4 linked regions of the Homo sapiens genome follow. The protein of the gene in region 4 purifies or fractionates together with the protein of the main gene of each other region. This does not show direct contact. Each region holds a gene or a part of one and is shown on either strand. Other genes may lie near its edges.

Region 1 (3,500 bases), on a different chromosome or scaffold from region 4:
TCTACTAAAAATACAAAATTGGCCGGGCGCAGTGGCTCACGCCTGTAATCCCAGCACTTTGGAAGGCTGAGGCAGGTGGATCACAAGGTCAGGAGTTCGAGACCAGCCTGACCAACAAGGTGAAACCCCATCTCTACTAAAAATACAAAAATTAGCCAAATGCGGTGGCATGTTCCTGTAATCCCAGTTACTCAGGAGGCTGAAGCAGGAGAATCGCTTGAACCCGGGAGGCGGAGGATGCAGTGGGCTGAGATCGTGCCATTGCACTCCAGCCTGGGCAACGAGAACAAGACTCGGTCTCAAAAAAAAAAAATTAGCCGGGCATGGTGGTGCATGCCTGTAATCCCAGCTACTTGGGAGGCTGAGGCAGGGGAGTCACTTGAAATTGGGAGGCGAAGGTTGCAGTGAGCTGAGATCACACCATTGCACTCCAGCCTGGGCAACAAGAACAAGACTCCATCTCAAAAAAAATTAAATAGGCCAGCCACGGTGGCTCACTCCTATAATCCCAGCACTTTCAGAGGCCGAGGCAGGTGGATCACCTGAGGAGTTTGAGACCAGCCTGGCCAACATGGTGAAACCCCATCTCTACTAAAAATACAAAAATTAGCCAGGTGTGGTGGTGGGTGCCTGTAATCCCAGCTATTTAGGAGGCTGAGGTGGGAAAACCACTTGAACCCAAGACGCAGAGGATACAGTGAGCAGAAATTGCGCCACTGCACTCCAGCCTGCTAACAAGAGCAAGACTTTGTCTCAAAATAAATACATAAATGAAGGGAAAGGGGCAAAAAAGCATATACAGCACTCCTCCAGGCCAGCCGCAATGGCTCACGCCTATAATCCCAGCACTTTGGGAGGCCGACGTGGACGGCATGGTGGCATGCACCTGTAATCCCAGCTACTCAGGAGGCTGACAGGATAACTGCTTGAACCCAAGAGGCGGAGCCTGCAGTGAGCCGACACCGCACCACTGCACTCCAGCCTGGGCAACAGAGCAAGACTCCGTCTAGAAAAAAATAAAAAATAAATAAAAATAAAGCACTCCTGGCTGGGTGCAGTGGCTCACAGTTGTAATTCCAGGAGTTTGGGAAGCCAAGGCAGGAGCATCACTTGAGTCCAGGAATTCAAGACCAGGCTGGGCAACACAGCAAGACCCTGTCTCAAAAAAAAAAACAAAAAACAGTATGCCCCATTAGAAACACTAAGTCTGAAAGAGTCCAGCTCTAGGGATTAATCAAACTCTAGATAGTTCTCTAGTGATCTAACTGAGCCAGTATCATAAAACTATGCGGACAGAACCGAAGATTAAAAGAACAATGAATTAGCAGGCTCATACAGGCTTTTTTTTGTTACATTTATTATAGAATGAAACAGAGCCTTGCTCTGTCGCCCAGGCTAGAGTGCAGTGGCGCAATCTTGGCTCACTGCAACTTCTGCCTCCCAGGTTCAATCAGGCAATTCTCCTTCCTCAGCCTCCTGAGTAGCTGGGACTACAGGCGCCCGCCACCACACCCAGCTAATTTTTGTATTTTTAGTAGAGATGGGGTTTCACCATGTTGGCCAGACTGATCTCGAACTCCTGCCTTCTGGTGATCTGCTCACCTCAGCCTCTGCACTAGGATTACAGGCATGAGCCACTGTGCCTGGCCCTTGGGTAAATTTTCAATGCAACACAATTTCAACAATAATGATGATGGTAAAAAAGCACAAAATACACACATTTTAGGCTTCTTTTCCCTTCCTGATCAACCTTTGCCTAATGTCACAAAAGCATGAGTTTCCTTTCCTATCATTTATAATCCATCATAATTCTACTCAGATGCTTAGATAGATGCAGAATAAAAAGCACCAGAAATTAACCAGATATGAAAAGGCTTTTACTGTTTTATTTAACATATATCTTTAAGACACTGATGTTGTGCATTCAAGTTTATATTATGGTAGTAGTAACTGAATAGAATTTTTAACACTTTGAAAATGTGGATACTCGTTTATAAGTGTTCTTCTATGTAGTTAATATTAATAGAAACTTTTAAAAATATAACCACTGAATGTGTAACAAACTTCCCTTTCCTCAGAAACTTCCCTTGGTAAAATAGCATTATTCAAAACTCCTCAAACAGGTTTATTCTATAAAGAAAATTATGCTATTTACAGAAAACAGTAAATCTAAAACAAGTACAGTGCCCATCAACTGGGTTCCTAATCGGACTAGGGAAGGGGCTCCATCAATTATACAGCTAACACCTCCACGTCAAAAGAAGTACAGGAGATACAGGAGCTACAAGGAACCAATCTTGTCTTTTATTTTCTACTTTTCTATCAAGGTATAACATATACAGTAAGTCAGTCTACATATTTTAAGTGTACACCTCCCTGAAATTTTACATATCAATTCACCCATGTGACCACCACTCAAAACAAGACAGACTATTTCCAACACCTCAAAAGGCTCCATTGTGTCCTCCTACAGGTAGTTATTATTCTGACATCTATCATGAAAGATTATTTGAGCCTGATTTTGAGCTTCACATAAACAGAATCATAAAGGTTCTCTTTCAGAGTGTTTGTCTTCTTTTGCTCAAAAGTACATCTGTGAGGCCAGGCATGGTGGCTCATGCCTGTAATCCCAGCACTTTGGGAGGCCACGGCGGGTGGATCACTTGAGGTCAAGAGTTCAATACCAATCTAGCCAACATGGCAAAACCCTGTCTCTACTAAAAATACAAAAAATTAGCTGGGCGTGGTGGCACATGCCTGTAATCCCAGCTACTCAGGAGGCTGAGGCACAAGAATCGCTTGAACTGGGGAGGCGGAGGTTGCAGTGAGCCAAGATCCTGCTACTGCACTCCAGTATGGGTGACAGAGCGAGATGCTGTCTCAAAAAAAAAAAAAAAAAAAGTACATTTGTGAGATTCATCCCCATTGTTGCATGTATCAGAAGTTTATTCTTTCTCATAGCTGTGCTGTTTTCTGTAAGCATGCCTCAATGTATTTATCCATTCTACTGCTGATACATAGTTGGGTTATTTCTAGTTCTGACTTATTACAAATAATATTCTTAAACTGTATACAGTATATTTCTGCGATGGACAAATACATCCATTTCTACTGGGCATATAACACAGGAAGTCATGTTATATTTATGACTTTATTAGGAACCACTGAACAGTTTTCCAAAGTGGTTGTACCATTTTGTATTACCATCTACATTTATACAACCCACCATACGTGAGTTCTTTCTGCTCCTCATCTTGCCAAAACTTGGTACTATTGTTCTCTTCAACTTACTCATTCTGGTGGGGTGCAATGGTTTTGGTATTTTCTTAAACATACTTCTTATTTACTCTTGCTTCATTGATACTGTTATTCTCCCAATAAATTATTCCTAAAATTGTAATGACTACTGAATTCAGAGATGTTGTGAATTACTATTCAGTCAAGAACTTGCTACCAAAGTTCATTTAGTCTTATTTGTCTTCCTTCTCCCTCCATTTCTT
Region 2 (3,500 bases), on a different chromosome or scaffold from region 4:
AAACTGAGCCTTAATTACAGAAAACCCGGGTTCTCTGTCTTACCTTAAAAACTTTGATTTGGCAGCTAGCTGAGTGTAGATGATCTGTGTATTCTCCATTTTCATTCTGCTTAAAGGTGTCAACCTGGATCCTAAAGGGCACTCCCTTTTCACCTCCGTGCTTCCGTGGAGTAAATTCTGTGCTGATGCAGTGTACCTATAAAACGATTCAGGCTGAAATGGATTCAAAGAACTTCCACTGGTTATTTTTCTATTTTGTTCCCTCTTGAGTGACCTGACACCACTATAAATTCAAGATCCTTTAAAATAAACTCATCACACATATTAGCCAAATTATCTATGAACCTAATTGTTTTTAAGATATGGCTTCCCTCTCACAAATCCAACTGAGCCTCTCCAGACTTTCTGAGCTCTTGCCCATCACAGTGCCTCTCCTCTAATGCAGGACTTGGGTCCAATCAGGGGTACAACACTACAGTAGCTTCCTATGTATACTGCCCACCTCCACCTTGGACTGTCTGCTCATCTCAGACCCAGGGTACTAAGCCCTGTTCAATCCACAGCAATCTTCACTTCATTGTTTAGAGCTTCTGTTGTTTGCCCTCTACTGCCATTACCCCTATTCTACCCAGCCAACTATCTTACTGCTGTTCCTACAGATGCCAATTTGTGATACTTTGCCTGGGGAAATTTTACAGTCCAGAAAACCCACTACCCATCCTATTCTGTATCCATCTAAACTCTTTGGTCAACTCTTCAAAGTCCATTCAGGATCCAGAGGGCAATACTCATCTTCCACCACTCCTGCCCTGTCTCCTAATACCCACCCTGGATGACAGCCTTAGGGTTTCACACAGAGTTAACAGCAAGACCTTGGTCATTTCTGACTGCTGCACATCCCCCTCTTCTAATGACTCACTATTAAAACTGATCTCTGCAATATGACAACACAACCTGATATGTAAAGCCAGGTCTTGTATCACTTTGATTTACTACATAACTAGTTGCCTTATAGACAAACACCAACAGTATGAGTTTACATCAATATTCAACGGATATAAACCATGCCCCCAGGGATTAACTGATGGAGAATAATATTGGTAGAATACCAAAATGCAAAATACAAATGATTTTTTACAGTTCATGCAAAGCATAGCTTATGAAGGCTGGTCAGCAAGTAAGTGGTTTTCCTTTTCTATATATTACCTACCTGGTAGTTTAAATTCCACCACATACAAATTTGAACATTGTGGGTATTAGAATCACTATTTTTTTTAAACACAGAATAATGATATTATAGTTACTTTTTAAAACTCATCTCTTAGAGACATGATATTTATGGATGAAATGGTATGCCTGAAACTTGCTTTAAAGTACTCTAACAGGCTGGGCACAGTGGCTCACACCTGTAATCCCAGCACTTTAGGAGGACAAGGCAGGTAGATCACTTGAGGTCAGGAGCTCAAGACCAGTCTGGCCAATATGGTGAAACCCCCATCTCTACTAAAAATACAAAAATCAGCCAGGCATTGTGGTGCACACCTGTAATCCCAGCTACTCAGGAGGCTGAGAGATGAGAAGAGCTTGAATCTGGGAGGCGGAGATTGCAGTGAGCCGAGATCATGCCACTGTATTCCAGCCTGGGTGACAGAATGAAACTCCATCTCAAAAAAAAAAAAAAAAAAGTGCTCCAAGAATAACTAAAAGGGGGCGGAAACTACTAAAAACTGCTAAAGCCAGGTGATGGTTACATGGACAATTAGTCATCATTATTATCCTATTTGTAGAGGTTTGAATTTTTCAGTATTAGAATGTTTTAAAAATAATGCTAGAAGGAATTTTAAAACCTCAATCTTTTTTCAATCGTATCCTTTTAAATAGCAGCTTGTGTTCAAGAGAAATACATCTCATGAAAAATAGACATTTTCATTATTGGGACTACTAGTGGTAAAAATAACATTTGAATAATGCTTTACATATCATAGAATGTCTTCATATATGTTAGTTTAAAATAGGGTGAACTTACTAGATTAAACCTAACTATGTATATAGAAAGACACTACAACATAGTTTATAAATAGACATTTAAAGGAAATGATACTGTATCAAAAATTCAATCCTACCATGACCTAAATAACTAGGTTAGTAAGCTTCTAATAATGTAAAAATCCAAACCTGAATGAAAGCAGAGGTGCGTTTTGCTGGGTCCCACAGAAATTCAACCGCATTTAACTGGCTTGGATTCGTCCTTGTGTCAATTATTCCCACAGACATTGGAATATCTATGTTTTAAAAAGAAGTTACATAAAAACATCCACTTTAAATAACTTAAAAAACTTACAACTTACTATATTATGTTCTAATGAAATAACTGTAACTGCTTTGAACTCTGTCTTTCAATGGTCTCCATGATCAACTTCTTCAACATCGAAACCCACCCTAAACGAATATCATCGTTTCCCCTACCATGGTTTGTATTTCATTTTTTTTAAGAATATGATAAGGCTGAGCGTGGTGGCTCACGTAATCCCAGCACTTTGGGAGGCCAAGGCAGGTGGATAACCCGAGGTCAGGAGTTTGAGACCAGCCTGGCGAACATGGTGAAACCCCGTCTCTACTAAAAATACAAAAATTAGCCAGACGCAGTGGCGCGTGCCTGTAGTCCCAGCTACTCAAAAGGCTGAGGCACAAGAATCACTTGAACCCAGGAGGCGGAGGTTGCAGTGAGCCAAGATCGCGCCACTGCACTCCAGCCTGGGCAACAGAGCGAAACTCCGTCTCAAAAAAAAAAAAAAAAAAAAGATAGATGGTTTACAATTAAACGGTTTCAAAATCATAAAATTCCAGGTTCACATTAGTTTAGCACCAAAAAGCTACTTGACGTTTTAACTATAAAACAACTCTCTCGGTTCTTTATAATACGAGGATGGGAAAAAAATAAAAAGAAAATAATGTATATACATACATACATATATATGTATGTGTGTGCGTATGTATATATAGAAAACAACTCTCAAGACACAAGATCCTAGAGGGGCATGGTGGCGCGCACCTGCAATCCTAGCTACTTGGGAGGCTAAGGCAGGAAAATCACTTGAAGACGGGAGGTAGAGGTTGCAGTGAGCCAAGACTGTGCCACTGCACTTATCCTGGGCGAGAGAGCAAGGCTCTGTCTCAAAAAAAAAAAAAAAAGACACAAAATCCACAAACACCAAAACTTTCCCCACACAAGTAATTCATGATGCCAACACAACACATTACTGGCTATAGCTAAACAATACCCTCATCTCCATGGTCTTTTGATCACTGCCTGTACCTAAATCAAGAAGTCTGTCTCCTGGGCGATTCCACTTCCATCCTTCAAGTTGCTGATGCTCTGTGTATTGTAGCCGTCTGTCATGGAATACAACCCTTATGATGCTCTGTGGAATAAGTGCGGAAAATGAGTACTTTTAAACTGCTCCAGCTAAAATGCAGGACCATTTCTACTTCTTATGTGT
Region 3 (3,500 bases), on a different chromosome or scaffold from region 4:
TTCTAAATTTTAATAATTTCAGCCTATTGTTCCCCCAGAGTAGTAACTGCTTTCTGGAACTGAACTCTGTGATAATGTAGTATTTACTTTTTGCCTTTTCAATAACCTAGTTAACAATTTTATACCTACTGAGTTCTATTTAAATAATGGTATTTTCTATCTCCTGACTGGACAGATACCCAGGAGTAGGGTTTGAACTTCCTACTTTCTGGTTTGCATATATCTTATTAAGATAACTAAAGTACTTGCTACTTGCCAGTCTTCAGACCCGGTCAGTGTAATGTCATCAGTGCAGCAGATCAGTGTGATGTGTGATTTCTCAATGTGATCAAAATCTCTGGACTATTTTAGAGAGCAAGAGTGTTAACATAGACCTGAAGCAAGACTGTAATGGTTGAACAAAGCACAAAGTGCTTCTGAGATTTTTTGCAAATTAATAGGAAGAAAAAAGCATTTGCTTCCAAGTTATAAGAATTGTGTTGATTTGACCCCGTAAAAATACTACATCTTGAATACTAGCTGCAATTACAGTCACGACCTTTCTGTGTTTATAATTCATAGCTATTCTCCAAGATCCATCTGTCTTATATTTAGATCAAACAGGTAAGTTAGTGGAATGTGGTAGCTATCACCACCTTTTTGTCTTTGGTTGTGGCACCAATTTCTGTGGTATTGTTTTTGGTTACTTTGTTGGTGAGGAGAGGAATACCTAGGGGCTTCTATGTGATCCATTATACCATATTGCTCCTTATGCCATAAATCAGAGAATCTATATGGGCATTGAGTCAGTTGCCAAGTATGTCTGTTCTAATTACTCATTAAGGAACTGGGGAATAACTGCAAGGTGAGTATGTGGATCTACCTGGCCCACTATGATTCAAACTTGATCTAAGGCTGGGTGCAGTGGCTCACGCCTGTAATCCCAGCACTTTGGGAGGCTGAGGCAGGAGGATCACTTGAGGCCAGAAGTTTGAGACCAGCCTGGCCAACATAGTGAGACCCCATCTCTGAAAAAATTTAAAAAAATTTAAAAACCAAAAAAATCCCCCAAACTTGATCTAAAACTCCTTGAATTGTGTCATAGATAATCTGTAAGCCTCTGTTGCTTACGTGATTATTTTTAAATAATTTTGATGAAAAAGCATACTTGAGGCATATAGGATATGTTGTTCATTTTTCTCTCTTTTTAAAAAGAAGATAAATCTATAAAGGGGAAAGACTAAAGCAAAAGTAAACTAATATGCAATTTAAAAATATGTAATATGTAGAGTTGAAGTTTTAAGAAGGCTAGAACATTCCCATGCTTCTTTCTAGAAGTTATGTCAGCCACTAGCAAGTTGAATGTCAACTGTTTTGAAAATAGCTACAGTGCAAGTAGTTCTTAAAAACAGGGACACACTCTGGAACTAAAATAGACTGAGTACAAGAAAATAAAGAAGTCATGTATGCAGTGCATTAACAAAATATCTTTCTAACTTTTGTTATAACTGTAAGTTCATAAAACTATTAAGCGTAGTCTAATGATTCATTTTGCCAGAATTTGGGATTATTTTGTAGATGTGATTTTAAATGTATTTATGGAAGTACAGTGTGACTTTATTTTTCTTTGTAGCTTTCGTTTCATGATGAAGTTATTTATTTATTTATTTATTTATTTTTGATACAGGGTCTCACTGTGTTGTCTAGGCTGAGTGCATTGGCACTATCATGGCTCACTGCAGCCTGGAACTCCTGGGCTCAGTGATTCTTCCACTTTAGCCTCCTGAGTAGCTGAGACTACAGGTGTGTACTATCAAGCCTGGCTAATTTTTTATATTTTGTGGAGATGGGAGTCTTGCTATGTTGCTCAAGCTGGTCTCGACCTCCTGGACTCAAGCAATCCTCCCAGCTTGGCCTCCCAAACCAAAGTGTTGTGATTGCAGGTGTGAGCCACCATGCCTGGCTGAAAGCATTTTGATATTAAAGTTCATATGTAATTATTTGCATTTTAAACATCTTATATTTGGAATTAGATTTAGGTCTCAATGTGACAAATGTTGCTAAGAATTTTGGGGAAAATAATTCTATTGATAGCGTATTTCAAACATCTTAAGGTAGGACAGAGAAATTTCTTTTTTCTCTTCTAAATGCCAGTACATTAAAATAAAATAATTTGAGTTGGAAGCCAGGTGTGGTGGCTCATGCCTGTAATCCCAGCACTTTGGGAGGCTGAGGCGGGTGAATCACTTGAGGCCAGGAGTTCCAGACCAGCGTGGCCAACATGGTGGAACTCTGTCTCTACTAAAAATACAAAAATTATTTCCAATTTCATCCATGTCTCTACAAAGGACATGAACTCATCATTTTTTATGGCTGCATAGTATTCCATGGTGTATATGTGCCACATTTTCTTAATCCAGTCTGTCATTGTTGGACATTTGGGTTGGTTCCAAGTCTTTGCTGTTGTGAATAATGCCGCAATAAACATACGTGTGCATGTGTCTTTATAGCTGCATGATTTATAGTCCTTTGGGTATATACCCAGTAATGGGATGGCTGGGTCAAATGGTATTTCCAGTTCTAGATCCCTGAGTAATCGCCACACTGACTTCCACAATGGTTGAACTAGTTTACAGTCCCACCAACAGTGTAAAAGTGTTCCTATTTCTCCACATCCTCTCCAGCACCTGTTGTTTCCTGACTTTTTAATGATTGCCATTCTAAGTGGTGTGAGATGGTATCTCATTGTGGTTTTGATTTGCATTTCTCTGATGGCCAGCGATGATGAGCATTTTTTCATGTGTTTTTTGGCTGCATAGATGTCTTCTTTTGAGAAGTGTCTGTTCATGTCCTTCGCCCACTTTTTGATGGGGTTGTTTGTTTTTTTCTTGTAAATTTGTTTGAGTTCATTGTAGATTCTGATGAAACTGGAAATCATCATTCTCAGTAAACTATCGCAAGAACAAAAAACCAAACACCGCATATTCTCACTCATAGGTGGGAATTGAACAATGAGATCACATGGACACAGAAAGGGGAATATCACACTCTGGGGACTGTTGTGGGGTAGGGGGAGGGGGGAGGGATAGCATCAGGCGATATACCTAATGCTAGATGACGAGTTAGTGGGTTCAGTGCGCCAGCATGGCACATGTATACATATGTAACTAACCTGCACAATGTGCACATGTACCCTAAAACTTAAAGTATAAAAAAAAAATACAAAAATTAGCCTGGTGTGGTGGCGCGTGCCTATAATCCCAGCTACTTGGGAGGCTGAGGCATGAGACGTGCTTGAACTCAGGATGCTGAGGTTGCTGTGAGCCGAGATCACTCCACTGCACTCCAGCCTTGGCAACAGAGCGAGACCCTGTCTCAAAATAAATAAATAAGTAATTAAGTAAATAAATAAATATAGTTTGAGTTAGAGACATTGTTCATATCTAGAATGTTTTATTGGCCTTTTTTTTGGGTGTTTTTTTGACTTTGACATTTAAAAAATATAAGCCAGTTGTTGTTGT
Region 4 (3,500 bases):
AATACCTTATCACTAGCTTCACGGATGTCAAGAATGGCAAGACATCTATTTTTTGTTGGGAAAAAGCTGCCAGCGTGGACCCAGCAGATGGAGTGTGGCTCTGAAGCAGTGTTTCTCAACCAGAGGTGGAAATACATAGACGCCCTTTTGATCACGCATACTGCTAAAATTTGGTGCGCCGAGATCGGGGATGCTAACCATCTTCCAACAGGGGACAACGTTCAAGTTAAATTGGCACTGAGTTATTTCCTCAGTATAGTTCCAAGCAAGGTAAATTCTAGTCCAGTGTTACTCAATTACTTTTTCATTATTTTTTATCTAATGAGCCTTTTAAGACTTTTTTTTCTTCTAATCCCATCTCCATGAGATTTTAATACCACAGCTACACTCTCTGTTTATGTATATCTGTGCCTCATACATGAAAAAGTAAGATATTGCCCCACCACCACCAAGAACCAATTTTCACCCCTTTGGGAGTGTCATCTGCCCCATTAAGAATGCATGGTTCAGCCTTTGCTTAGTTTTAAATCTGCAGTATACAATTAGACAACACCATATGGAGGTTTATGGAGTGAAGAATCTTCTACAGCTTTTGCTGGAAAGGTTTGCCAGACTAACCCCTCATGATGCTGGTAACTCCAATTTTTCCAAATGGAAATTTTTCTCTTTTGTACCTGAATTACACTTTATATAAACCCAACAGTTTCTAAATGTTTGCAATGAATATATTTGAATGAGTATATGAATGTATGATGTAAACCATCGAATTATGTTATGTAGTTATTCTTTTTAAAAAGATTAATCTTTACCCTTTAATGAGTGAGCTCTTGTACATCAAGTCATCTTAGATTCAATTTGAAAAAGATACACAACCTTTGGGAGCACTATTATACACGCATCTGTATCTTACGTTTTGTATTATACGGTTATGTGTGTGTGATATATATATATATATATGTGTGATATATATATATATATATGTGTATATATATATGTATGTATATATATATATATGTGTGTATATATATATATGTGTATATATATATATATATATATGTGTATATATATATATATATATATGTGTATATATATATATATATATATATGTGTATATATATATGGGTTTCCATCCACGATTCCTGGCTTATAACTCCCAATGCCCTTGTTACAGTCTTTTGTTACCATGTCGAGGCATTTTAGGCCTCAGAGACAGGCCTCAGAAAAAGAATCTCTCTCACAATCTCTCTGCCCTTCTTTTGCCCTCCCCTCACCTGCCCAAGTCAGGACTATAATCTTCCCTGACCTTTCTGATTGTGGGTCATAAAACCCTCATTTCTGAAGGGATTCTGCCTCATACCCTGGAGGAAGGAAAGCTTCACAGAGAGGCCAAGAAGAATCTGGACAGGCCTTGCTGGGTTTCCCCACTCAGTCTACTAGTATTAGATCATACCCTTTTTGTCCAGTCACATTAATACAGAATTGTCAGTCAGGCCTATCCAATGAAGACTCCATAAAAGGCCCCAGAGAACAGAGTTTAGAGAGCTTCTGAATAGCTGAACTCATGGAGGCTCCTGGGAGAGGACACGCCTGAGGAGGACATGGAAGCTCTGCCCCCTTTTCCCCATACTTTGGGCTATTCATCTCTTCAGCAGCATCCTTTGGTATATCCTCTATAATAAACCAGTAAACCTAAGTGTTTCCCTGAGTTCTGTAAGCCACTCTAGCAAGCTTTAGAACCCAAAGAGAAGCTTGTGGGATCCCCAACTTCAAGCTGGTCGGTCAGAAGTTCCAGAGGCCTGGACTTGCAACTAGTGGGAAGGGCAGGCCAGTCTTGGGGACTGAGTCTTCAACCTGCGGGATCTGATGCTATCATCAGGTAGATAGTATAAGAATTGAAATGGAGGACAACCAGCTGGTGTCTGCTGCAAAACTGATTGTTTGCTTGGTGTGTGGGGGAAAACCTCCATACATTTGGTCACAGAAGTGTTCTGTGTTGATTGCTGTTGTTGAATGGGAAAACAAAAAAAGCACAGTTTGTGTTTTTCCACTGACAATGGGCTATTGTATATATTCCCCGTTTCCCTAATTTAGGGTGTAAATTAGTTGAAAGTACTGATCATGTCTTATTTCTACCATGAAAATATCCCCAGTCTCTTCATATTGTTTACTTTGTTCCTAACCAAGAAAAATTCTCACCTTGGATGTGATAGAAGTCTGGATCCCACCCCTTTTGATGACTATTTTCAGACAAAGCTTTCTACTGCTACTAGTATCTATTTTCTATTAGTTTCATTATTGGAACTGCAGAATACAAAATTTAAAAGCAGTTTCTAAGGATCTACTAAATATTGAACTCTGAGTTTAAAAATGCACTTTACCTCTCTTTAGCCTACTTTTATATTTAGTAAAATAAAGGGAGACTGAAGAGGCAGAACTAGGTCCCTTCTGACTCTATGGGTCAGTCCAACAAAGGTCTGCAAACAGAAAACTGATGTGCGTATTCTTTCTCCCTGTCAGGTGCTGTCTTTACTTCCTTCTCCTATTCAGCATATATTCCATGGTCTACCACTTCAGCCACTTGCTTGCCCTAACTTCTTTTTTTTTCCCCCCCCCCAGAGAGAGTCTTGCTCTGTCACCCAGGCTGGAGTGCAGCGGCGCGATCTTGGCTCACTGCAACCTCCACCTCCTGGATTCAAGCAGTTCTCCTCCCTCTGCCTCCCAAGTAGCTGGGATTACAGGTGCCTGCCACCACACCCAGCTAATTTTTGTATTTTTAGGAGAGATGGGGTTTCACCATATTGGCCAGGCTGGTCTCGAACTCCTGACCTCGTGATCCGCCTGCCTCAGCCTCCCAAAGTGCTGGGATTACAGGCGTTTGCCACTGCGCCCGGCTCCATAACTTCTTAACTGTGTCTCACTACACTTCTATAACAACCACATGGCAAAATCCCAACCCTGGGTCAATACAACTGCCTACCTTGTGTAATCTCAGCCTTTGGCTGCTGCTGGAAAGTGGGAAGAAAATCACACAACTAAGCAGACTGGTATGACCTGAAATTGAATGTCCTCAACCTCACGTGACCCGCTGTACAACAATCCTTGTTTCCCTAATTCTCTCTCCTAGCCTTCACAGGAGCTACTTCAAACCTTTTACTTGTAAATAACCATATAACCATATAATTGCTCCTTCTCCTTTTTCAAGGCTTAACCCAAATGTCACCTGCTTAGTGCAGATTTTCCTGACTAAAATTTTAAAACTGCATCCCCTTCCTCTTTATTTTCTGCCATCTAATAAACTATAAATTTTACTTATTGTTTTGCTTATTATCCTTTTCTGCAACGACAATGTGAGCTCCACAAGGGCAAGGAGTTTTGCATGTTTTGTTTACGGCTGTATCCCCATGCCTCCAACAGTGCCTGGCACACAGAGAGTGAGGAATGAGTTTCCTCTTTCCCAGGGTCAACATTCTACCCGCCGGGCCATTTTAAACCTCTCTCTA

Evidence for each region. The genes of interacting proteins can lie anywhere in the genome.
Region 1: the proteins of HINT3 (region 4) and EDC3 purify together in Homo sapiens (co-immunoprecipitation; one large-scale study listed by IntAct). This does not show direct contact.
Region 2: the proteins of HINT3 (region 4) and UBP1 purify together in Homo sapiens (affinity purification with mass spectrometry; one large-scale study listed by BioGRID and IntAct). This does not show direct contact.
Region 3: the proteins of HINT3 (region 4) and TMEM38B purify together in Homo sapiens (affinity purification with mass spectrometry; one large-scale study listed by BioGRID and IntAct). This does not show direct contact.

Annotation. Positions count from the first base shown.
Region 1 is NC_000015.10:74,686,025-74,689,524, forward strand, and holds part of EDC3 (enhancer of mRNA-decapping protein 3), read right to left. Parts: intron 1,156-3,500; exon of another isoform or gene 1,067-1,155; intron 1-1,066. UniProt on the Homo sapiens protein: Binds single-stranded RNA. Involved in the process of mRNA degradation and in the positive regulation of mRNA decapping. May play a role in spermiogenesis and oogenesis.
Region 2 is NC_000003.12:33,409,406-33,412,905, forward strand, and holds part of UBP1 (upstream-binding protein 1), read right to left. Parts: intron 3,423-3,500; coding exon 3,317-3,422; intron 2,283-3,316; coding exon 2,176-2,282; intron 197-2,175; coding exon 44-196; intron 1-43. UniProt on the Homo sapiens protein: Functions as a transcriptional activator in a promoter context-dependent manner. Modulates the placental expression of CYP11A1. Involved in regulation of the alpha-globin gene in erythroid cells.
Region 3 is NC_000009.12:105,701,041-105,704,540, forward strand, and holds part of TMEM38B (trimeric intracellular cation channel type B), read left to right. Parts: exon of another isoform or gene 1-603; intron 604-3,500. UniProt on the Homo sapiens protein: Intracellular monovalent cation channel required for maintenance of rapid intracellular calcium release. Acts as a potassium counter-ion channel that functions in synchronization with calcium release from intracellular stores.
Region 4 is NC_000006.12:125,959,770-125,963,269, reverse strand, and holds part of HINT3 (adenosine 5'-monophosphoramidase HINT3), read right to left. Parts: intron 1-3,500. UniProt on the Homo sapiens protein: Exhibits adenosine 5'-monophosphoramidase activity, hydrolyzing purine nucleotide phosphoramidates with a single phosphate group such as adenosine 5'monophosphoramidate (AMP-NH2) to yield AMP and NH2.